5 separate regions of the Homo sapiens genome follow, and all the other regions are linked to region 2. The links come from fine-mapping of genetic effects on gene expression. A gene starts in region 2. Each other region holds a variant in brackets. All regions are shown on one strand. Distances are from middle to middle.

Region 1 (4,000 bases), 78 kb after region 2:
CCATCCTTGGGATCTTTCCTCTGTACTCATGGCCTGTAATACAGCTTAGCATGTACACACATCCTACGTGGAAACCATCTGTTTATATGCTTATTTCCCCCAATAGGTGGTAATTGCTTTGAGAGTCAATGTGACTTCTAATTTGTATTTTTGTCCCCCACATCTACAGGTGTGCCTGGAATGGATCTGGTGCTCGACAGATGATAGGTGATTCAGTTTCAGGGCTGGACCTGGGCCAGTCCCGAGCTTGTTTGTCCTCAGCTCCATTCTTGGCCACCTCCAGCCCTGCTCCGAGTGGCGGGGAGCTGACCCCATGGGCTGCCTTCCTCAGGCTCCCAGATCAGCTGGCTTCTGCCTGGGTTTAGCCAACAGGAGGCCCTGGCAGGAGACTGGATGGTGGGAGGAAGGGAGGAGCCAGGGTGTTTCTTTCCTTCTCTCCTCGGGTGGTAGCTCCAAAGTTTGTGTCTCTTGGCTCCTGTTAACACCACCTCCTCCCTTGTCCCTCCCGCAAAGGGCTGGCAGTGTGGCTTTCTGCTGGGCCTCTGTCTGGGTCACCACACCGCCCTGTTTGGCCTCTTGGCTCCTCTATCACCCGTGTGACCGATTCCCCACGTTAAATCCCCTCTCTTCGCAGCTCTAACAGTGTCTCCTTCTTTCTGGTTGGACCCTCACTCAGCCCAGCTGCCAGGGACTGTCCCCTCTGCTTGTACAGTGCTGGCCCAGCATTCACTTGTCCAGGAAATGCCTGGGTGAATGGCAGGCACATGGGCCAGGCTTCAACTTGCTCTGCCCTCGCCCTTTGGCCTTGAAGGTCCTGCCAGATACTCCACAGCGAAGCGAGGCCTGAGCCCTTGTGCTGGGGTTGCCAAGGGAGGGGTCTGGAGGTGGCAGCAAGTGGTGGGAGGGCAGGTTGGCAGTGCCAAGGACTCCTGTGCTCTGTGCATGGCCCTTTATCTATTAAGCCTGCTGAGTGGTAGACTCCAGTGTGGTCCCAGGTGGTGGGAAAATAGCATCTTTAATTGTGCTCGGAATGAGATTAACTTCTTATCTGACAGTTTGACATCTTTATTGTTATTAATACCCGAATAATGCATTGTTATTTTTATAAACTCCATGGTGGCAAACATTTTTCCTTTATTTGGATTAAAAGTAGGTGTATCTGTTACTTCCCCTCATTACCCTGGGCTGGAACTCAGGGTCTCTGGCTGGGGAGCAGGGACTGGGGTGAAGGGAAGCCCATCTGCCGAGTCCTCTCCCAAGTGGCAGAGGAGCCAGGCCCCAGAGCTGGTCACTTGGCAATAGCACAGTCAAGGTCTGGGCAAAGCCTCCTGGCCTCCATTCCCGCCTGGGAAGGCAGGATGCTCCCGGAGTCTTCCCTACTGGAGAGGCGGTGTTCTGGAATACAGAGCCTGGAGACTTTGTCCTGGACTTACTCAGGGGCTGTAAATGGAAGTACAGGTTCTCCACAGCATCAAGTGGATGGAGAAGGAAGACATAAAAAGTCAATATAAATGCCATGGAGGAATACCAAGGGCCCTCTGTGCACCTGTGTGTTCATTCATAAGTATTTGCTGATCACCTACTGTGTGCCGGATATGATGTTACGTGCTGGTATACGATGGGGCTGGCATCCAGAGTGCCCCTTTTGGGGGTGAGGTTGAAGGGAAGGGCAGGATAATACCAAAGTCAGGATCATGGCTCTTGAGTCAGGCTGCCTGGGCCCAAATCCTGGTATCCAGAGGTCCCAGGGCAAGTTCCTCAACCTCTCTGAGCCTCAATTTTTCTCGTCTGTAAAATGGAGATAAAAAA[G/C]TACTTACTTCCAACATTCTTGGGATCATCAAATACATGTGAAAACATTTGCTACACTGCCTGGGGCACAGAAGAACCCAACAATATTATGGATGATGATTGTAGCTGCAGCTCTAGACGTGGGGCCAGGCCCTTGCAGTATGGCTACTAGAGGGTCAGGTGAGCAGTGGGCAGGGGTGCCCACAGCTGGCCCCTGTGAGCATCAAGCTCCCTCCCCAGGGACCTGTTGCCCACTCCCAGGCCCCCTGGCTCCTCCACTTACCCAGTCGTTAGCCCAGCTGACAAGGATGATAATGCCTCTGCCTTGGAGAGCTGGCGCCGACGTCTTTATCAAAGCCAATATTAATTTTCACTAATTAGGAGCTGCCGCTAATGAGCGTCACAGCTAATTTAGCTCATCTATAACCTAGGAATGGCACTGCTCTCATGCCAGGCTCCAGAGTCCAGGATGTTGGTGCCCGCTCCCTCCCCCACCTCCTCTCCACAATGCCAGAGGCACCAGCTGCCAGTACAGCCTGTTCCCACATGCCACCAGGGCCAGCTTGTTCTGCAGAGGGTCCAGTGGCCTTCACCTCCAGGGAGCCCTCAGGGTGGGGCCAAAGGGAAAATCCCTAAGGAAGGGGTCAGAGTATGTGCCAATCAGCTCCAGGAGTAAGTTTGAAACAGGAGGTTCAGTCTGGGAGGCTTCCTTTTTATTAGGGTACCATCCCTGCTGAGGCTTTGGCTCTGTCAGTTCTAATGCCTCTGTCGCCTCCTTCAGGAAGCCTTCAGAGACCACCTTAGCCCACAGAGACCTTTCCCCACTTAGTAGAGCTCTCACTGGTCAAACATTTGGCAGCAAACAGCGTTTGCCATGTTGCCTTCTCCTGGGAGACAGTGGAATACGGTGCTCAGAAGGTGGGCCTTGCATTCTGGCAACTAGCAGCTGTTAGACCTGTGCCTCAGTTTCCTCTCTGGTAAAATGGAGAAAATAACATATTGCTCATTAGGGGCACGGGGTGGGTGAGATGAGCCAGTGCATTGCCACGATCGTTGCTTTTAACTTTCCCATTGTGTTTCACAGGTCCACATGCATCTTCTGGTAGTCTTTCCTTCTTAAGAGAACTTACTTGTCCTTGCGCTCCTCTGTGTGCTCAGCACAGACAGGGGTTGTGCTCAGAGCAGACAGCAGGTCAAGAGCCCCGGCTAGCAGGCCGAGCCCCCAGCGCATGCCAAGTAACTGTTGAATGAATGAATAAACCTGGATTCTTACTTCTTTCTGAGCCTTAGTTTCCCCATCTGTAAAATGGGGCCATTGGCTTGGTCAATGTCTAAGACTGCTCTCATCTCTTTCATTCAAGACCCTTGATGACTTCAAGTAAGAATTTGGTGAGTGGATGGATGCTGGCTTCTGCCTCTCACTAGGAAGACGGGAATGGTGACTATTTGCCCCTCCAGGCCCTGCAGGGTGCCTTCCAGTTCTCAGATGGGGACTGAGAGTAGCTGCTGGTCAGAGCTGTGTAACCTTAGTGCAGGGCTGCTTTTCTGGGCCAGTGTGGCTCTCTTCTCACCACCAGCACAGGGAGGCATTCACCTGGCTTAGCCCTCAGACACACGACATCCGCAGGAGCTGCCCAGGAGCGTCCCTGACCTCTCCAGCCTGCTGGGACCTCCCAAGTGTGAGCATCACAGTGGGGAGGGCGGGGTAGGAAGAGAGAAAGCACTTGGGGGATGGTCTTAGACTCTCTGGTTTGGAGTTCCTGTTCCTGCTTCCCTTTCTGTTTCCTGTGTGCAGCCTGAGCTCTTGGCTCCCGAGAGGGGAGGGTCTAGGAGGGCGGTTGAGGACAGCTTTTTTGCACTTATCACCTCTGAAAAGCGACCTTCAGGCTGAGCCAACTTTGGGGGAAGAGCCTTCAGGCGTGACAGATTTGACTATAAATCTTCGGTATTAATGCCCGGTTCCCAAGGTCTGTCATCCTGTATGCCCGCGTGACAATTGAAAACAGTGTGAGGCCCATCTGTCACCCGAGGGGTCCCCGTCCCCTGCTGGCTTTGCCTGAGCAGGGATGGCAGGCTGGGAGGCAGGGGTATGAAGGAAAAGGTAGGGAGGATCTGGCCAGTGACAGGGTTGGGGATTGCAGCCAATAGCTGGAATGCAGGCCCTGAGGGGCGGAGGCTGGAAGGCAGGGAGCAGGCCCCAGTTCCATGCCTG
Region 2 (6,314 bases):
TCCCCCCAGCTCTGAGCCTCCTGCAAACGCCATCTCCTGCCTTTGGCTGGTTCATGTGCAGAAGAGCAAGACTGCTGTTCACCTCCGGGATCCAGTAGCTCCCATGGCTGCCTGGGGAGAGTCCCTGTGCATGCCTCCAGGCTTCCGCACATGCTGCTCCTCCACCTGGAGCGCCCTTCTGCTTCTGCTGCCTGTGACCTCCTGGTCAATCTCGGCTCACTGCAGCCAGCTCTGATGTCCCCTTGTCCAGGCAGCCTTTCTGGACTCAAGATTTCATGACAATGAATCACCCCACTCTCCTTTGGGCCATTTGTCCACTTTGCCACACTTACCTTTCTAGGTTGTAACTGATTCATCTGCCCCTCTCTCCCACTGGGAGTGCCTTGAAGACAGGATGGATGTCACTCACATCTGTGTCCCCGGTGTGCGGTGCTGGCCTGTTCCCCTCAGGGCCATTCTCTCCTCCCCTCTGTGGTGCTGCTCTGCATCACAGCAGGCTGACCCCGCAAACTCCCAGGTCCACTGTCTTCAGGTGGGAGACGAGAGGGCTGGGGAAAGAAGCCGGGATGTGTCTTCACACTCCACCGTCTCTGGCAGTAGCTGTGTTTCTGTGACTCGAGCCCACACCACACAGGCCCACTGTGGTCTCACCTTCCACCGTGTGCCCTGATCCTGGTCACTCTGCTTCCTCCCTTATCCCTCCAGTCTAGGGGTGGCACACTTTCTGCTGTTGCTGCACTCTGGGTCGCCTCGCCATCCAGTTAGAATTCTCAGCCCTTCCATTCCCTGTCTGTTACACACTCACGGTGGTTCTGTGGGCTGGCTGCATCCCAACTGACACCCCAGTTCCCAGCACGGTGCTTGGCACAGTGTGTAACAGAAGGTTTGAGGGGTGGAGAACCTTGAAGAACACCTCTTCTCATGCTTTCATTTTACGAATGGGGAACACAAGGCCAAGAGAGGTCCAGTGTCCAGCCCGCTACCATCCAGCTAGAGGGTGACCTAGAACTCAGATCCCGCTCTCCGGACTCCTGGCTCCATCACACTGTGTAAAAGCATGACCACCTAAGACATGTAGGACCACGACTCCAGTTCATTTGTCCAAGAGCCTACTTGGCATCTCTGTTCTGTGACTGCACAGGCCTCTCACACAACATGTCCCAAGGGAGCTCTTGCTCAGGTCTCCATAGTGGCCTCCTCAGAGGGCCCCATCACAGGAAACAGCACACTGTCCATCTACCACCACAAGCCAGAAACCCAGAAGTCTCCTTGACCCTTTGCTCTATCTCACGTATAACCACTCCCTGTCCTCCTGGCCCTGTAGATTTTTACCTCCTGAAAGTCACTTCTCTCCACTTCTACCCACCCCCTCATTCCAGGCCTCTGTCACCAATCACCTAGACACTGCAGCAGCCTGAGGACATGTAAGCTTCACCAGGGCAAGGATTTGTTTGGCGCAAGCATGCGTGTCTGTGTGCATGTGTGTGTGCCTGTGTGTGTGTGCTTGTGTGTGTTGTTCATTGACATATCCAAAGTGTCTAAATTCACAGGGGTTAACTAACGTTTTCTGTAAAGGGCCAGGCTGTAAATATTTCTTGTTTTTGCAGGCCATGCGGTCCCTCTTGAAATTCCTTATGTCTGTAGTTGTAGTGTGAAAGGAGACACAACCAAACAGGCCATGTCTGTGTGCCACTAAAACTTTCTTTACAAAAACATGTGATGAGGCAGATTTGACCTCTGGGTAGCGGTGTGCTCACCCCTGGTCTAGAAAATTTCTTGGCACATAGTATTTGACAAATAAATACTTTTAATTGAAGCAGTCTCTTCTCATCAACTGTTGCCTCCCAATCAATTCTCTCTCTCTCTTATTTTTTTTTAGATAGAGTCTTAGTGATCCTACTGCCTCAGCCTCCCAAAATGCTGCCATTATAGGTGTCAGCCACCAAGCCCGGCCTCTGAAGCTTTCAGTCTTAGGATAAAGATCAACTCCTGATTAAGGCCAACACACCTGCACAGTCTGGCCCCCACTCCATTGTGGCTTTACAGTCACTGCCAAGGACTAGAGGGACCACTCAGTGACTCGGATCAGAGAGGGGGTGCTTAAAGCCAACAGATGGTGCAGGCTCACTCACCCTCCCAAGCTTCCCAGGAGCGTTTCCTCGTACGCTGGAGGCACGGAGCTCTCCCCACCCTTTCTGGACTTCCTGACATATGCCAGCTCCTTCCCACCTTTGCACAAGTTGATTGCGACTGCGGTCACCAAACCATTGTTCCTGGCCCAGCCGTTGCCTGCAGTGGGCACCTGGGGCCTTTGCACATGCTGTTTCTCCTGCCTAAAACTCCACTCTCTCTCCCTTGCTCATCCTTCAGCTCAGTCACCTCCTCTAGGAGGTCTTCCCTGATCCCCTCGGCCAGGCGCCATTAAAGCACTCTTCTTCCTAGCACTGATTCTGGCTGTAATTTTACCTGCTTATGTGTTTCATTGATGAATGTCTGGTTCCCCTACTAGAGAAGCTTCATGGGGCACAAAGACCAAGCCTGTTTTGTTCTCCATCCTATTCCTAGAAACTATTTCAGTTAGCTAGCACATAGCAGTGACTGTGAATGAATGAATGAATAATGAATGAGCGAATGGTAAGGAACTGGAGCTTTGGAACCAGATAGATTCTGGGTTCAATACCCGACTCCACCACAGGGGCAAGTCCCCAACCTCCTAAAGCCTGTTTCTCACTGTAAAACTGGGATAATGGCAGGGCCCACCAGAAAGACTTTATTGAAGATAGAATGAGTTGAGGCCCAGAAAGTCTCAGCCCAGAGCCTGGCTCCAGGCAGGTACTGTCAATGTACTGACTGGAACAGTGACAGCTCGGAAATCCTGTCATGTGAGAAATAGTTTTAAAAAATCAGAATGCTTAGCCCCGGGGAAGTAAAGATCAAAGGTAGGGGATAAACCTCTTCCATTACCTGCATATGGACCCTTTCTTGATCCAGCTGTCTCAGAAAGCCATAAAGTCTCTGTCCCTATAGGTGTGCAAAAAGGAGCCGGGAGACCATGACTCGGGCACTGCAGACGGAGCTCCCGCAGGGGTGAGGGCGCCTAAGTGACCTCACGGGTCTCCTCCAACCCGGGGTCCTCCATTTCTAAGCACTTGGAGGCCTCTTGAGCTCTAGTGAGGGAGGAGGCGCAGATGGGAGCGCACGAGTCGGGTGGGCAAAGGCAGCTGGTTGGAGAGAAGCGTAGGCCAAGAGGCCCCAAGGACTAGAGGGACTGCTCAGCGACTCTGGGAGCAGAGAGGGGGCGCTTAAAGCCAACAGATGGCGCGGGCTCACCTAGGCCGAGCGCCCGCTCGCCCGCCCGGGCTTCCCGGGAGCGTTACCTCGCTCTGCCTGAGGCGCGGGGCGGACGAGACGCTGGGGGCCCCATCCCCCTGCGCGCCCCTCTGCGGGACGGCTGGCGGCCTGGCGGGGCACTGCTCTGTCTCGCACCTGGGGCCTCTTCCGCGGGCTTCCTCCCTGCCCCTTTGGGGGATTCGTAGAGTTGCCACAGCAGCCGGTGCCATGACATCGGCAGAGGGCAGCTTCGCCAGCACTGAAATATTCATGCCCTGAGCGCCCGGCGGGGCTCGGCGCCGCTCCCGGGGGTCCGGGCGGGGCCGGGCGGGAGCTCGGGGGTCCTGGCGGCCTGAGGGGTGGGGGAGCGCCGAGCGCGGGCGGGCGGGCGGGGGCCGGGCGAGGCGGGAGGTGAGGGAGGGAGCTGCGGGAGGCGGGGTCTGGACGGCGGGGGCCGAGCGGGGCGGGGGCCGAGCGGGGCGGGGGAAGCAAGGGAAAGTTGATCGCGGACTTGAGCGGCGGCGGCGGCTCGGGAGAGAGGGACGCGGGCTGCAGGCGCGATGCTTGGCTAGAGGACGCGTCCGACGGCGGCCGGACGCTGAGGTGGTCGGGGCTAGTCAGCCCGGCCTGGGCATGGAGCGCGGGGTGGCAGAGCCTCTGGACGTTTGGGGCGCGCCCAGTCCGAGCCCCCGGCGCGCCTGAAGTTGCGAGCGGCGAGCGGCGAGCGGCGAGCGGCCCGCGGAGACCCAGGAGCTGCCGGCACGCCGCGGATGAGCCTTCGCGCCGGCGGGAAGACGCGGCGGTGGCCAGGGCCAGAGCAGGCGGCCCGCGGGGGCCGATCCGGCGGAGAGCAGAGCCCGAGGCGAGGCGAGGCGCGGCGCCGCTGCACACACGCACACGGTACCCGGAGCCACGCACCGCCTCTTCCCTCCTCGCTTCCCTCTCCTTCCCCTCGCCGTTCGCCCGCCGCGCGGCGGGGAAGTTGGTGGTGACCGCGGCTGCCGAACCACTTGTTCCCAGCGCGGCCATCGCCCGTGGCGGGCGCTCGCGGCATCCTTCGGTCCCAGGCCCCTGGCCCTAGCCTCGCGCCCCGCTCCGAGCTCCCCGACGCGCGGCAACTTTGATTCCTGGGAACTCGAATTCCATTCGCGTTGGCCTTGGGAGGACAGGCATCCCATCCCCCATCCCCGGTCCTGGGACCGCGAACATTTGGGGGCTTTGCTCTCGGCGCTACGGAGAGGGTCCAGGTCTGGGGTGGAGAGATTTTCGAGAGTGGAGCGCGTTGGGATCCAATCCCCTCCCCTTCTGAGCCCTGGGTCCCCATTTGGACAGTGGGGATGGGGTGGGGCGCACCCCTACTGCGGGCTGGGCAGAGGCGCTGAGGGGAACTAAAGGCACGTAGTTCTCCCCTCCCCTCATCAAGTCCCTGTGCCCGCGGGAGACCCCAGGGGACTTACACATCCTCCCAAATTCGGTCCAGCTATGGGAAGACGCGCCCCTCGAGGAGCCGGGAGCCTTTTGCGGCTCTCGCTTCGCCTTCCTGGCCCTGGAACTGGTCCGCTACGAGCGGTGCTGGCTGCCCCCAGGAGCTGGCACCCGGGAGCACTGCCCCTCATCTCCACCGTAGGTCAGCCCAGGACTCGAGCAGAGCCCGCGTGTTCCAAGGCAGTGACGGCGCCAGCCGGCGGGGACTCTGCCTGGCTTTCTCGGAGCGGGCACCTAGAGAGGCTGCCTCCGTGCTGTGAGCGGAGATCCGATGCCAGCCGCCGCCCCACTGCGACCCCAGCCCCAGCCCTAGTGCTGTCAGCGGTCCACTGGGAGGAAATTAGCCTTTCCTCGGTAGTAATACTCCCCCATCCTCCCTAGTAATTCAGAAAGCAGAGCCTTCTTTTTCTACGTCCTTTGCCCTCTCAGACCAGAGCTGGCATTGACATTGACCTCGCCTTCCAGCCCCTTGGGAAGTGCCCCAACCCTAATTTGGATTTTGAAATAAGCTAGAGAGACACAGGAGTGTGTGTGTGTGTGTGTGTGTGTGTGTGTGTGTGTGTGTGTGTGTGTTGGGTGGAGTCAGACCCTCACACAGGGAAGAATTAGGTTGTGGGGTGTGGGGTGGGGCGGGCTTTAAGAACCTAGTTGGGGCCAGTTGCATGGTGATGATGAGTCAGCCCACGATGGGGAGAGCTGGCTTGGAGTTAGTGCTTGGTTCGTGGTGCAGGGGTAGGCGCACTGCGGTCAGCACCTACAGGGGTGGGGGCACTAGATGTTACTCTGCCAAGGAGGAGCTGGGAAGGGGCCCCTTGCCTGGGGGAATAGCAAGGCTTGGTTCTGGCTGCCAGGGCTGGGGAGGGCAGGAAGGCAGAGTGTCTCGTGGTAGAGGGTGGGTGTCCCCCGTGAGTTGGGAAGGTGGCACACAGAAGCCACTGGTGTGAACCAGGAAGCTCTGCCTCGAGTGCTGGAGGACAGCAGTGAGGGGTGGGAGGCCCAGAGCTAGCATCCTGGCCCCGTCTGTGCTGGGTCCGCATATACTTCTCAGACTTGGCCTTCCTCACCTCTAAACAGCTGGGCTCCTCACGTCTGCTTACCAAAGGGCTTGATTTGAGGGTTGTGATAGCAGATGGTCCTGGTTGCCTCTGGAATAGCTCCCCCACTCAACAAGCTACCTTACCTGCAGTTTCACCATTTGAGGTTCATTTATTTGAGCCAAGTATTTTAAAGGGCACCTTCCTGAAGTGCTCATTTAAAATGCACATTCTTCTGGGAGGTGAAGGTGTAGCGGAACCTTGCTCCTCAGAGTGTGGCCTGTGGACATGCAGCGTCGGCATCACCTGGGGACTTGTTAGAAATGCAGACTCTTGGGCCCCACCCCAGACCTTCTGAATCAGAATCTGCATTTGGTAAGATCCTTGGGTGACTCATGTGCTCAGTAAAGTTTGAGCTGTGGTCCACAGTGCCTTCTCTAAGAGGCATTGCATAGTTCCTTGGTG
Region 3 (4,000 bases), 390 kb after region 2:
AAAGGGAAGCATAGGAAGAAATGAGACCAGAGAGGTAATGGGGCCAGATGTTGTCGGGCCTTGAGGGGCATCATGAGGGCGTGGCTTTTGCTCTGAGGTGGGAACCCTAAGAGGGCTTTAAGCAGAGGAGAGACATTATTTGACTTAGGTTTCAGCAGGACCACTCTGGTTCCTGTGATCAGAACAGACTGTAGGGGTGAAGGAAAAGGAGCAGGGAAGTCGGATGGGAACCTGCTGCAATCACTCAGGCTAGAATGAGGTAGCCGGGAGAGGGTGGTGGCATCACCACCAAAGGGAAAGAGGTGGCCACCTCTGGTGTAATTCAGAGGTGGAGCCAGTAGGATGTGCTAACTGATTGGCTGTGGGATGTGAGAGAAAGTCAAGGTTTTGGCGTGAGCAACCCAAAAGATGATGGCGTTGCCATTGACGGATGGAGGGCTGCAGCAGGAGGTTGTGGAGGGAAAGGAGGGTCGGTTCGAGATACCAGGTAGAGGTTGCGTATACAAGCCAAGAGTTCAGGAGAGAGGTCTGGGCTGGAGACGGGTATTTGGGAGTTGTCAGCATAGAGGTATTTAAATCCAGGAAACAAAGAGCGGTGCGAAGATTCAACAGTGAACCCAAGCCTCGCTTGCAATTAAGAGGCTGGGGGAAAAAACAACAACCTATATATGGAGGGCCCAAGTGACAGAATGAGAGCCCCTGCTGCCCAGAGCTTATGAGGGGTCACTCTGTTCGGACATGCTACCCTTTCGGATCCCAAAGTCTCCTCTCTGGCCAAGCACTAGGCCTTCCTCTTTGGAAACCAGCAGAGCAAGGGCCTTTCTCTTCTGCTGTTTTCACAAACACAGAGATTTTGTAATTTTATGGGAGTCCCTGGAGCACAGGAGGATGCCGGCACCTGGTGGAGAGGCAGGTGCTGGGTGAGCAGCTGAAGCCCCTCCCCATGAGGGGCCCACTCTGCACCCCAGCCTCAAGGCACAGAGCACACACCTGTGCTCCAGCACAGTGCAGACCTCCATGCCATGGCCTTTAAGCCACAAGCGAAACTTCCTGGGTTCAATCCACACGTGATTGGGATGAGCCTTAAGAATTTGGGGCCTTGTGGGGGAGTCCCAGCAGACTAACAGGCAGGCTCTCAAAGGAGTGAGAGACGCCTAGGAGTTTCCTAAGGCTGACCTGGGTGGGAGGCTTCCTCCCCCAAGGAAGGAAGAGTAGACATTTAGAGCCCAAAGATAACTTTGGGGTCTCTGAGCGCCACCCGCATCTCAGAAATGATCAATGAAGGCCCAGAGAGGTGAGGAAGGCCTGATGGTACTGCTGACATGGGTCACGACATCCATTTCCCACATCTCCTCCCACCTCGGGGTTCATGTTGGTCACTGAAGGGTTGACGGATGCTACAGCCAGCACCGCTGTCTGGAGAGAGCTGGTTTCACAGTGCACCACTGCATGGAGGGACGTGCCTGGGACCCCAGCTTAAAGGTCACCTTCCCAACACTGCAGCCTGAGGCTGGAAGGCTGCTTTCTATAGGGAGACAGATGCCAGATTTCTGAGCACTTACCAGCCCCACTGAGCCCTTAGGAGGAGCTGTGTGCTCAAAGAAGAGCTGGGAGACAGGCCACATGCACTTGAGCCTCTCCCGCCAGCGCCTGCCTTCTCAGCTGCCCTTTCTGGTCACACCCATTCCTTGGACCCCTTTCCTACATCCTCACCCTCCCTGAAAGCTCCCCGTTCCTTCAGAGGCCTGCCTGGGCTCCCTTTCGGGATCAGCACACACAAGGTGGGCCAGGGTTTGTCCAGCATCAGCACAACCCCAAGGTGGCATCTCTCTATTAGCCCATTTTTCAGATGAGAACATCAAGGCAAGGCTCCTTAACATGCCCAAGGGCACACAGGCATGAAGTCCAGATGCAGACCTAGATATGATTGGACGAAAGCCTAGGCTTTTAACCTCCTGTCTCCAGGAGTTGTGGAGGGATGGGGAAGTCTGGCCCCAGAGCAAGCTGCCAAGGAGAAGAATTTGCACAGGGGAACTAGGCTGGCCCAGCCCCCAGCCCCTCAGGCCTGCCTCCCTGAGCCTTCAAGGGAGTGGTGCTGGTGTCTCCTCCTGGCTTTGGAAGGAGAGCAAGAGGCCCTCTGCCTGCATATGGCCGGGGCTTGAGACAGGGCTGGGAAACACCTAGAAAGGGAATCCCCAGTTCTTTGGAGACCTTGGGGTGTCA[T/G]GCTCAGGAAATCCTGCTTTAAGCAGCTTCCACCCCCCAGGCAGGGTGAAGCCTATGGGACGGGAAGAGCCTGGGAGCGGAAGGGCTGGTGGGAAATCCCAGCTGCAGGTGGGACTGAGAGGGGCTGTTTTTGTACATCAGAGTGTTAGGAGCTGGGGACAGGGAATTGTGAGGTAGGATGTGAAGAGACAGGCAGAGAAAACTGTGGGGGCGCCTGGGCCCCTGTCCTTGCCATGCCCTGTGAGCTGTGTGCTTCCTGCTGTCTGTCCCAGAGCAAGTCAGTGCCCCATTCTGGGCCCTTCCCCCTAAGTATTCAAAGGGAAAGTGAAGGAGGTAACTAACCTTCTCTCCATTCCATTTCCTGGGGGAATGCGGAGAGGTGGCCTCTCTTCTGCAGGCTCTCCCAGTTCCCTAGCTCACATCCCCTCAACTTTCTTCCTGCCAGAGCCACAGCCCCCACCATTCTTGCCTCTCCAGCTGGGCTCACGCTTGCTCACTGGTTTCCTTCCCCCTGTCTCTTCTCTCCACCCTCCGTGTTCTCACCCCGCCCCGGTCAGCTCTGAGTGGTGCTGTCTGGAAAGAACACAAGTCCTGTGCGAGGCAATGGGTTAAGACCCAGAGTGCTGGGTTTGAATCCTGGTCTGTCATTCACTTGCTGCAGGAGTGCAGACAAGTGGTAACCCTCCCCTGGGCTCCCAGTTCATTCTCCAAAGGACACAAGGGACTGGACGGTCTCTGGGCTGCCTTCCAGGTCAGCATCTGAGAATCTGAGGTTCTTGCTCTGGACTGTCAGACATCGGGCCCTGCAGCCCAGCCAAGAAAAGGATTCTGGGGCCACAGGGCCAGCGGGGCTCTTCAGAAACATCAAGGAAAGGAAATCAGGGTCACCACAGGTGTAGGGAACCCACTCTGCTTTCCAACTATAGCTCAATATGGGGACTAAATAGAGGGCACTGGGGGCTTCCCTGCCCCTCATCCGTCCCCTTCTGCCTGCCCGGTGCCTGCGCATTCACCATTAGCAAAGCATTGCTTTGTGGTCAGCTCTGCCCTTCCCAATATCCTTTTTTACAAGCCATGGCATGTGGGATGGATCGTACATTGCGAAGCACCTGATGCCTTCATTGATCAAGAGTGCTTAGACAGTGGGTGCTAGTGTAGCAAGAAGCCCCCACTTTTTCAACATAGCCATCTTACCCAGGTCAGTCTCTGGCCTGCCTGTGGCCCAGGGAAGGAAGCTGCTTGGTCTGGCACATGAGGGCATGAGTGGCCCGTGTCCGCCTGCACCCGTGGTGGTGATCCGCTACCACCCACCTGCACATCCCAGCCCTTGCAGATCTCATGAGGATCTGAAGCTGGGGTCACTGGAGGACCCGGGCCCCAGCTGTCCCCCACCTGTGACGAGTGAGGCTTGCTAGAGGAAGCAGAAGGAGTCCTGGGGTCTCCACAGTTCCTGCCAATGCCCGACTAACTTGGGCCTCTCCTGGTGACACCCAGGGGAGTTTGTGATCTCTCCTGTGGAGGGGGTGCTAAGGGTCCGGAAGGACGTGGAGCTGGACCGGGAGACCATCGCCTTCTACAACCTGACCATCTGTGCCCGTGACCGGGGGATGCCCCCACTCAGCTCCACAGTGAGTCTGGGGGCCCCACCCGCTGGCTTCACCTCGCTGCCCCTGTACTTGCCACAGAGATTCTTGTAAACATTGTTACCCTTGTGCCAAGAGAGGCCACAGGCTGCCCTGGAGCCAGGCCAGGCCTGCCCCTGGGGCCCTTAATAGAC
Region 4 (4,000 bases), 240 kb after region 2:
AGGAATGAGATGGCAAGCCGCCTAAGGGAAGCAGGCAGGCAGTGATGTGACAGGAGTGAAGTTTCGGGAGGAGGTGCAGTGGAAGACACCCAACTTCTGTACATCCGCTGCCGAATGGAGAAACTGAATGTGATGCCTTCATGCGGTGGGCCATTATTCAGCCATTGCAGGAGTGAATGAAGCACTGAGCTGCTACAGCAGGCATAGCCCTGGGAAACACAAAAGGCCACTTGGTGGATGATTTCACGTGTGGGAAACATCCAGAAGAGGCAAATCCACAGACACGGGAAGCAGATTAGTGGTTGCCAAGGGTTGGGGGAGAGAAATGGGGAGTGATGCTTAATGGGCACAAAGCTTCATTTGTGGGGGACACAAAAATGTTTTGGAGCTAGATAGAGGGAGTAGTGGTTGTACAACCCAGTGAATGTAGGAAAAATGCTGAATTGTTCGCTCTCAAATGGTTAAAATGATGACCTTTATGTTATATGAATTGTATCTCCATTTTTTAAACATTTATTTTATTATTATTTTTTATTTTGAGACAACGTATCACTCTGTCACTCAGGCTGGAGTGCAGTGGTGTAATTATAACTCACTGCAGCCTCGAACTCCTGGGCTCAAGTGATCCTCCCACCCCAGCCTCCCCAGTAGCTGGGACTACAGGCACATGCCACTGTGCCTAGCTAATTTTTAAACTTTTTGTAGAGATGGGGCCTCACTACATTGCCTAAGCTGGTCTCAAACCCCTGGCCTCATAAGATCATCCTGCCTTGGCCTCCCAAAGTGCTGGGATTACTGGCGTGAGTCATCGCACTCAACCTAAAAATTTTTTTAAAGGATGCTGTGTCTGCCAGGGGTGGGGGTGGGTGAATTGACCCTGAGGGGCAGGGGCCTTTCCTAGGAGTGACTGCCGTCATTCAGATGGGGCCTGTGGAGGGTGAGGAGCGGTCAGCCGCTGGATCTGTTTTGAAGGGAGAGTCAATGGGATTTGCCAATATGGGGAGGGGAGGAAGGGAGTTAAGAGTGACTGCACAAGGTTTTTGGCCTGAGCAGTTAGAAAAATGGAGTTCTTACTTCCTGATACGGTAAAGCAGTCGATTCAGTGAGGGCATGATGGAATCCGTAGGTTAGCTTCCAGCGTGTTACGTTTGACATGCTTGTTAGACACCCAGATGGAGACGCCAAGAAGGCACATGGGCTGTGCTGGTAGATACCTAGCGAGCAGCTCCAGGGCCTCGGTGAGGGGCTGCCTCATAGCATTTAGTAATCTCTGTGGTGTCAATGCTCCTCGATGGCCGATCTCAAGCTACTGGCGTGGCCTCAGCTGGCTCTCCCAGATTCTAGAAATCCAACCATTGGCTCTCAGGAGCCTCTAGAACCCCATCTACCACCATGTGGATCCAGGCTGGAGGCGGGAATGAAAGTGTTGCCAACACCCAGATTGTATTTAAAGCCACCGGTGGCCGGCATGGCGGCCCACACCTGTAATCCCAGCACTTTGGGAGGCCAAGGCAGGAGGATTATGTGAGCCCAGGAGTTTGAGACCAGCCTGGGCAACATACTGAGACCCCCATCTCTACAAAAAAATTCAAAATTAGCTAGGCATGGTGGCGCACACTTGTAGTCCTAGCTGCTGGGGAGCTGAGGCAGCAGGATCGCTTCAGCCCGGAGATTTAGGCTGCAGTGAACTGTGATCACACCACTGCACTCCAGCCTGGGCAACAGAGCAAGACCCCAACTCTACCTAAAACAAATGAATAAATAAAGCCACCGCTCTAGCTGGGTTCACTTGGGAAAGGGATGTGGATAGAGCAGAAAGGAGACTGGGGACTGGGCAGCCCCAGGACACCCTGATGCTTCACTTTAGGGGAGATGAGGATGACTGAGGAGCCACCCCCAAGGGAAGGGGAAGAGGAGCAAGAGGGAGCACTGATGACAGGAGGAAGATTGAGGCGAAGGAGGGAGTGGAGTGTGCAGGAACAGAGGCAGGACTCAGAAGACTTGGAGGCAGCCCTAATGTCTTTCAGTAGTGGCAAATTAACACGCATATCTTAGTCCATTTCTGTTTTTGGCATGATGCCTTGTTGTGATAGCCCTCATTAGGGAATGTCCAAACCTGCTAACATTTACAGAGCAGGTCTACCAGGATTTGTTTTTCTTTTCTTAATCCTCTTGGCCCTTTTCTCTCTCCTGCCTCCAGAGCCCTCCTCTTGCACACCAGGGGGCCACCCTTCTAAGAGGGATGCCAGAGGTCCCCTCCCTAGCTCTGCAGATCACTCAGATATGCTAAATAGTCCTACAGGGACAGACTGTGCTTAAATAAATAGATCACCAAAGGGAATTGAGAATCAGAGGAATCTCAAAGGCATTGTGCTGAAAGAAGCCACTCGCTATTGCCCTGTGCTGCATAATTCCATGACATTCTCAAAAAAGACAAACTTATAGGAACAGAGAACAGGTCAGAGGTGGCTG[G/A]GGGTGGGAGAGGAGTCCCTGTAAAGAGACGGGACAAAGAAGTGCTGGGGGCAGTGGGACTGTTCTGTATCCTGGTTGGAGGGGATAGGTAACAAGAATCTTTGCATGTGTTAAAATTCATAGAACTATATACCAAAAAAAGTCAACTTTACAACATGTTAATTAAGAAAATAAACTATAAATTATGGAATACCCCCACACCCATCCCCCAAAAAGGATGAAGTGAGAGGCACCAGCATGAGCAGCAGCACTGGTGGGCTTCTAGACTAAGATAGCCCCATCCTTCTCTCCACCGTCATTAAATCAGCAAGTGCGTAATTTGCACCCTCCTATACAGCTAGAAAGGCCAGTTAGAGGGCCTTGAACACCGCTGTGAGATTCAATCTAATTCAGCAGGCAATTGGGAGCCATAGATGGTCCTTGAGCATAAGTGATGTACTCAGAGCTATGCTTTAGGTTGATTAATCTAGACACATGGAGAATGGGGGTGGTACCAGTGGGCAATGACAGAGAGCACCGGTGGGTGGGGACTGGACGAGGGGTCAGGACTGCTTAGATGTGGGGTCTATAGGAAAGGCAGAGGTTGAGATGAGGCTGCAGTTTAGAGTTCCAGCAATGGGAGTGACAGAAGCTCAAAAGGGCAGGCTGGGGGAGGGGCTAGATGGAGAAAAAGATGGGAGCTGCCACCATCTGCCACCACCCTGCTGTGCAGCGGCCAGGTTCCATCTTTACCTCAGTATAGCTCCTCACCTGAACACCCTCCACCACCTTTGCATGCCCTCTCTTTCCCTCTGTTAATCTGTCTTTGAATCTGATCCTCTCTCCCTGTCTCTCTGTCTCTCACCTGCCTTCCCACGTGTCTTAGTCCATTTTGTGTTGCTTATAACAGAATAACTGAAACTGAGTAACTTAAGAAACAAAATTTATTTCTTACAGCTATGGAGGCTGAGAAGTCCAAGGTCAGGGGGCTGCATCTGGTGAGGGCCCTCTTGCTGGTGGGGGCTCTCTGCAGAGTCACGGGGTGGTGCAGGGCATCTCGCATGATGAGATTACTACGTGTGCTCATGCAGTAGCTCAGGTCTCTCTTCCTCTTATAAAGCCTCTAGTCCCCCTCCCAGGATAACCCATTAATCCATTAACCCATTAATCCACTAATCCATGAATGGATTAGTCCATTCATGGGTGCAGAGCCCTCACGATCCAATCACCTCTTAAAGGCCCCACCTCTCAATACTGCCACTGAGGATTAAATTTCAACGTGAATTTTGGAGGGGGACATTCAAACCCTAGCACCATCCTTCCTTCTCTGTGTCTGTCTCTATCTTCTGATTTTTTTTCTCACACTCACACATGCACAGCAGATAAACACATGCAACTCATTCATTCATGCCTTTATCCCTTCGTCCATTCACCCATAGCAACTATGCGGCCAATACACATACACGCCCCACGCCCCAAAGATAGGGAATATGTCAAGTAGGAGGAGCCCTTTGCATGCCTGAGCAGCCCTGCCTGGGGGCAGCTGAGT
Region 5 (4,000 bases), 210 kb after region 2:
ATCATCTCAGAGGCCTGTTCTGTGAGCGCTGAGCAGAAAAGGTAAAAACCTCTGATCCTGACGTTGGCTTCAAAAATGGCATCCCTGACTTGAATGTGGACTGTGTCTTAGGTGACATTGAGGAATCATTTATTTTATTTAGGGTGAAAATGGCATGTTTTGTTGCATTTTTGAAAGTCCTTATGAGAGATGCATACAGTATGTAAAGATGAACTGGGATTTCCTCTGTTAACACCGTGAAAAATTGGTAGTGTTGTGGGGGGTGATTTTAAGATAAGATTGGCAAAATTTTGATGATTGTTGCATCTGGGTGATGGTACCGAGAGCTTCATTGTGCTCTTGTCTCTACATTTGTGTTTCTTTGAAATTTTCCATAGTAAAACTTTTATGTGTGGTCCCCAAAGCTTCTCAAAGCAGACCAGAGAGCCACATCTGACCTGTGGCCTGGACAGGAGTCCAGACTTGAGCCAGACTTCTGGTCCACCCATCTGGTGCCAGTTCTGCTTCTAACGTGCTGTGTGTTGTTGACCAAGTTACTTCTCATCTCTGATTCTCACTTCTCCAGGGGATGAAGGAAAAGTTGGAACCTGCTAGGCTTTAAGCATCTTTCCATTTTCCACCTCTGACACTTGACACATCTAACTTGTATGCTCAGAGACTCCACTGGAGGGAAACTGTGGGAATAGTCCCATTTACACCTTCAATGTCTTTCCTTTTTTTTTTTTTTTTTTTTTTTTTTGGTGAGACAGAGTTTCACTCTTGTTGCCCAGGCTGGAGTGCAATGATGCGATCTCGGCTTACTGCAACCTCCGCCTCCCAGGTTCAAGCAAATCTCCTGCCTCAGCCTCCCGAGCAGCTAAAATTACAGATGTGTGCTACTACACCCGGCTAATTTTGTACTTTTAGTAGAGACAGGGTTTTACCATGTTGGCCAGGCTGGTCTCAAACTCCTGACCTCAGTTGATCCACCTGCCTTGGCCTCCCAAAGTGCTGGGATTACAGGCGTGAGCGACCGTACCCGGCCACACCTTCAATTTCTTCAGTGGGTTGGCCCACTGATGCTTTAGGAGATAAGCTTTGCAAAAAGGGCTCTGTGGTCAAATAAGTTAGAGAGACACTGCATCACAATTTCCTTGTGCTGGCAAATCACAATGCCCATGAGCACATTAAAGGCTCTGACAAGTCCAGCAGTGAAGATGTCTGTTGAGCATTTCCCAGATTTGTTTGACCGCAGAACTTTTTTTTTTTTTTTTTTTTTGAGACGGAGTGTCACTCTGTCACCAGGCTGGAGTGCAGTGGCACTATCTCAGCTCACTGCAACCTCTGCCTCCCGGGTTCAAGCGATTCTCCTGCCTCAGCCTCCTGAGTAGCTGGGACTACGGACACGCACCACCACGCCCAGCTAATTTTTTGTATTTTCAGTCGAGACAAGATTTCACCGTGTTAGCCGCAATGGTCTCGATCTCCTGACCTTGTGATCCACACGCCTCGGCCTCCCAAAGTGCTGGGATTACAGGCTTGAGCCACCATGCCCGGCAGACCACAGAGCTTTTAAAAGTTGACCTTTCCTATACCCCATGGTATCAGAGTTCCTGGGGAAACCCTGGCCTTTCTGTTTTCAGACTGGGGGCTCTGACTCTGTAGGACAAATTTGCCATCTTTTCTCATAAATATGATGACTCTGACTCATACTCACTCGAACCCAAGATGTTTGATGTTTTCCACATTGCTGAGTGGGTTTGTGCTTAACCAAATCTGTAGTTTTTTTCCTTCAGTCATGCCCTGACCAGAATCATCTGCTTTGATGTTATACTCTGAGTCACTGACCAAATGCCGGAAAACCCTCCAACATTAGGAAACTGGGCCTGGCACAATCTGCATCCTTTCTGGTGGAGCCTTCTAGAAGCATTGTTTCTAGGGAGGAGTAGGAGAAGGAATATAGGCATTGGCATTAAAGGCCATGGCTTCAAATCTCAGTGCGACCACTTACAAGCCTTATGACTTTTTCACCTCTATCCTCAGTTTACTAATCAATGAGGTCTAACATTTGTTGAGCATCTGTGATGTGCTGGACACTGTGCTGAACTAAGTAGG[A/C]TTATTACCTGCTTTTATCCTCACATCAGCCCTATAAGATAAGAATTACTCCTCCCCTTTTTATGGTTAAAGAAACGCAAGCCCAGAGAGGGTAGATAACTTGCCCACGGTCACACAGCTAGTGAGAAGTAATGCTGAGGTTCGAACCCTGGTCCTAGCCACTGCAATATCTGCCCTTTCAAAAAGATCAGATCTCCCATGGCATCTTAAAACTGAAAACGTCCTGGGAATCTCCAGATTCCCTGAACCCCATCCCTCAGGGCCCCCTTGGAGGGTAACGGGGTGCTGGGTGTGCTGGACTCCACACCCCGTCATCTGCTTCAGCCAGGGCAACTAGCTCTGATTTTGGCTGTTTTCTATACTGGAGCTCTGTGTGAAATTTTGTCTGATACAAGAATCTGCTACTGAAACAAAGACATTTGAAAAACCACTGCCATGGAAAAGCCCCCTCTTTTTTAAACAGGAGAAAACCCTGAGGCCCAGAGAAGTGAAGTGACTGGCCCAGGGTCACAGCTGTCTTCTGAGCCCCAGGCAGATCTCTGTTCTCCCTTCAGGCATTGGAGCAGGGCCTGGGCTGGGTGGGCGGCGGAGGGGGGGGGGCTCTGCAGCCCCCAGGGGACCCCTCAAGGTCGGTCATTCGGGCTGGTTCAGCCAGCTGGTGGCCAGTTTCTATGAAGATAACTGTGTCTGAGGCTGGCTCCCTGAACCTCGTCCGACCACATCTATTTCTGGGCTGCAGAGTCCTGACGGAGCACAATTTGATTCATAAATTACCCGGCTCAAGGTGTGTGTGATGGGTTCTCCTTCCACAGATTTGAAAGTCATTCACTCTGGAACTTGCAGCACTTGGGGCGGGAGGGCAGGGGCAGCCGTGGCACTGTCAGGATTAGTGTTCATGGAGGAAAGATGGCAGGGAAGATGGAGAGGGCTCGGACAATCAGTGAGAGCCGCTCTGTACCAGCTCTGTTCTCCCAGCAGCCCCAGGAGGCAGAGTCTGTCAGTGTCCCTCTTTGGCAAGTGAGGAAACTGAGGCTCAAAGGCAAAGTCACTTGCCCAAAGCCACATAGCTAGAAGTAGTGGAGCTAGGATTTGAACTCAGTACCCTCTGAGGCCCACACTGCTTCCACATGATCTCAGTGATGCAAGACAAAGGACTGAACAGATGGCAGTTGGAGGGGGAGGCTGGACCCTGGGCAGTAGGATTTGGAGGGAAGTTTCAGGGGCACCAACCCTCTTTGTCCCACAAACTTCAGGGTGCACCTGTCACTGCCATTGCACCCCACCCTGCCCCGCTCTGCCCATCTTTCCTGCTTAACGTCATCCAGTCTGTGGCACTGCACAGCTCCACCTGCCCCAGGCACCCAGTTCACCATCTTTGACGCATCCTGACATGGGTTCAGCACTTTACAGTTTGTAAAGCATCTTCAGATTCCTTATCTCACTGAACCTCTAAACAGCCCTGTGAGAGGGGAAGGTATTCTCACCTCCAAAGAGGAAACTGAATCTCAGAATGTCCACAAGCCCCAAATGATGAAACCAGTCTCTTAAATTCACATCCACTCCTTTATGAGTTCTCCAGTCGGCTTCCTCATACATGTGCCTTGTCCTTCCCCGAAGATGACCAATCTTCCCCATTAGACGGTGGGCTCCCTGGGGGTATGACCCACCCCATACCTGGTACGGACAGGCCCAGTGGTAGATAGGTGGTCTCTGGTGTCCCCACTTCCCGAGAAGCTTCATCCCTGGGCCCATCTTTCCCATGTCCCATTGCTGGATTGGAGCCAGAGGAGGGGGTGACAACACGTCCAGGATGACAGACAGCGCGTGCCCCCTCCTCCTGCCATGGGCTTTCTTCTCCTTGGGCGTCTGATCACCGTCCTCTTTGTTTTCTTAAGTGTCTCTCCCA

Alleles and levels. Positions count from the first base shown, and alleles are read on the strand shown. Sizes are in standard deviations (SD) of each study's normalised expression. Not every link is listed here.
As copies of C replace G in region 1, the expression in thyroid of the gene that starts at base 3,832 in region 2 goes down (moderate effect, 0.42 SD a copy in GTEx).

The links. PIP is the estimated chance that this variant, and not a neighbour inherited with it, causes the effect. A credible set is the group of variants that fine-mapping cannot tell apart.
Region 1: its variant is the best candidate, but not a certain one, in a credible set for the expression of CDH23 in thyroid (GTEx, PIP 0.88).
Region 3: its variant is the best candidate, but not a certain one, in a credible set for the expression of CDH23 in whole blood (GTEx, PIP 0.57).
Region 4: its variant is the best candidate, but not a certain one, in a credible set for the expression of CDH23 in whole blood (TOPMed, PIP 0.57).
Region 5: its variant is the best candidate, but not a certain one, in a credible set for the expression of CDH23 in monocytes after LPS (Fairfax 2014, PIP 0.59).

What each region holds. Positions count from the first base shown.
Region 1 is chr10:71,471,829-71,475,828 of GRCh38, forward strand. The region is part of intron 3 of CDH23 (cadherin related 23); the gene reads left to right. LOC105378356 (a long non-coding RNA gene) reads right to left here and starts at 2,226. Exons shown (of 3, transcript XR_946055.3): 1 at 2,072-2,226; 2 at 1,584-1,788; 3 at 1,050-1,461. The variant G/C (reference allele first, on the strand shown) is at 1,810.
Region 2 is chr10:71,393,089-71,399,402 of GRCh38, forward strand. CDH23 (cadherin related 23) reads left to right here and starts at 3,832. Exons shown (of 70, transcript NM_022124.6): 1 at 3,832-4,230. RefSeq lists a silencer at 3,351-3,440 and an enhancer at 4,124-4,635.
Region 3 is chr10:71,780,570-71,784,569 of GRCh38, forward strand. It overlaps CDH23 (cadherin related 23), which reads left to right. Exons shown (of 70, transcript NM_022124.6): 42 at 3,718-3,851. Among named protein-coding and RNA genes, the nearest start is that of MIR7152, 8.2 kb to the right of the region's middle. The variant T/G (reference allele first, on the strand shown) is at 2,224.
Region 4 is chr10:71,629,502-71,633,501 of GRCh38, forward strand. The region is part of intron 11 of CDH23 (cadherin related 23); the gene reads left to right. Among named protein-coding and RNA genes, the nearest start is that of C10orf105, 88 kb to the right of the region's middle. RefSeq lists enhancers at 946-1,776, 3,671-4,000. The variant G/A (reference allele first, on the strand shown) is at 2,473.
Region 5 is chr10:71,599,278-71,603,277 of GRCh38, forward strand. All of the region lies in intron 9 of CDH23 (cadherin related 23), which reads left to right. Among named protein-coding and RNA genes, the nearest start is that of CDH23-AS1, 89 kb to the left of the region's middle. The variant A/C (reference allele first, on the strand shown) is at 2,095.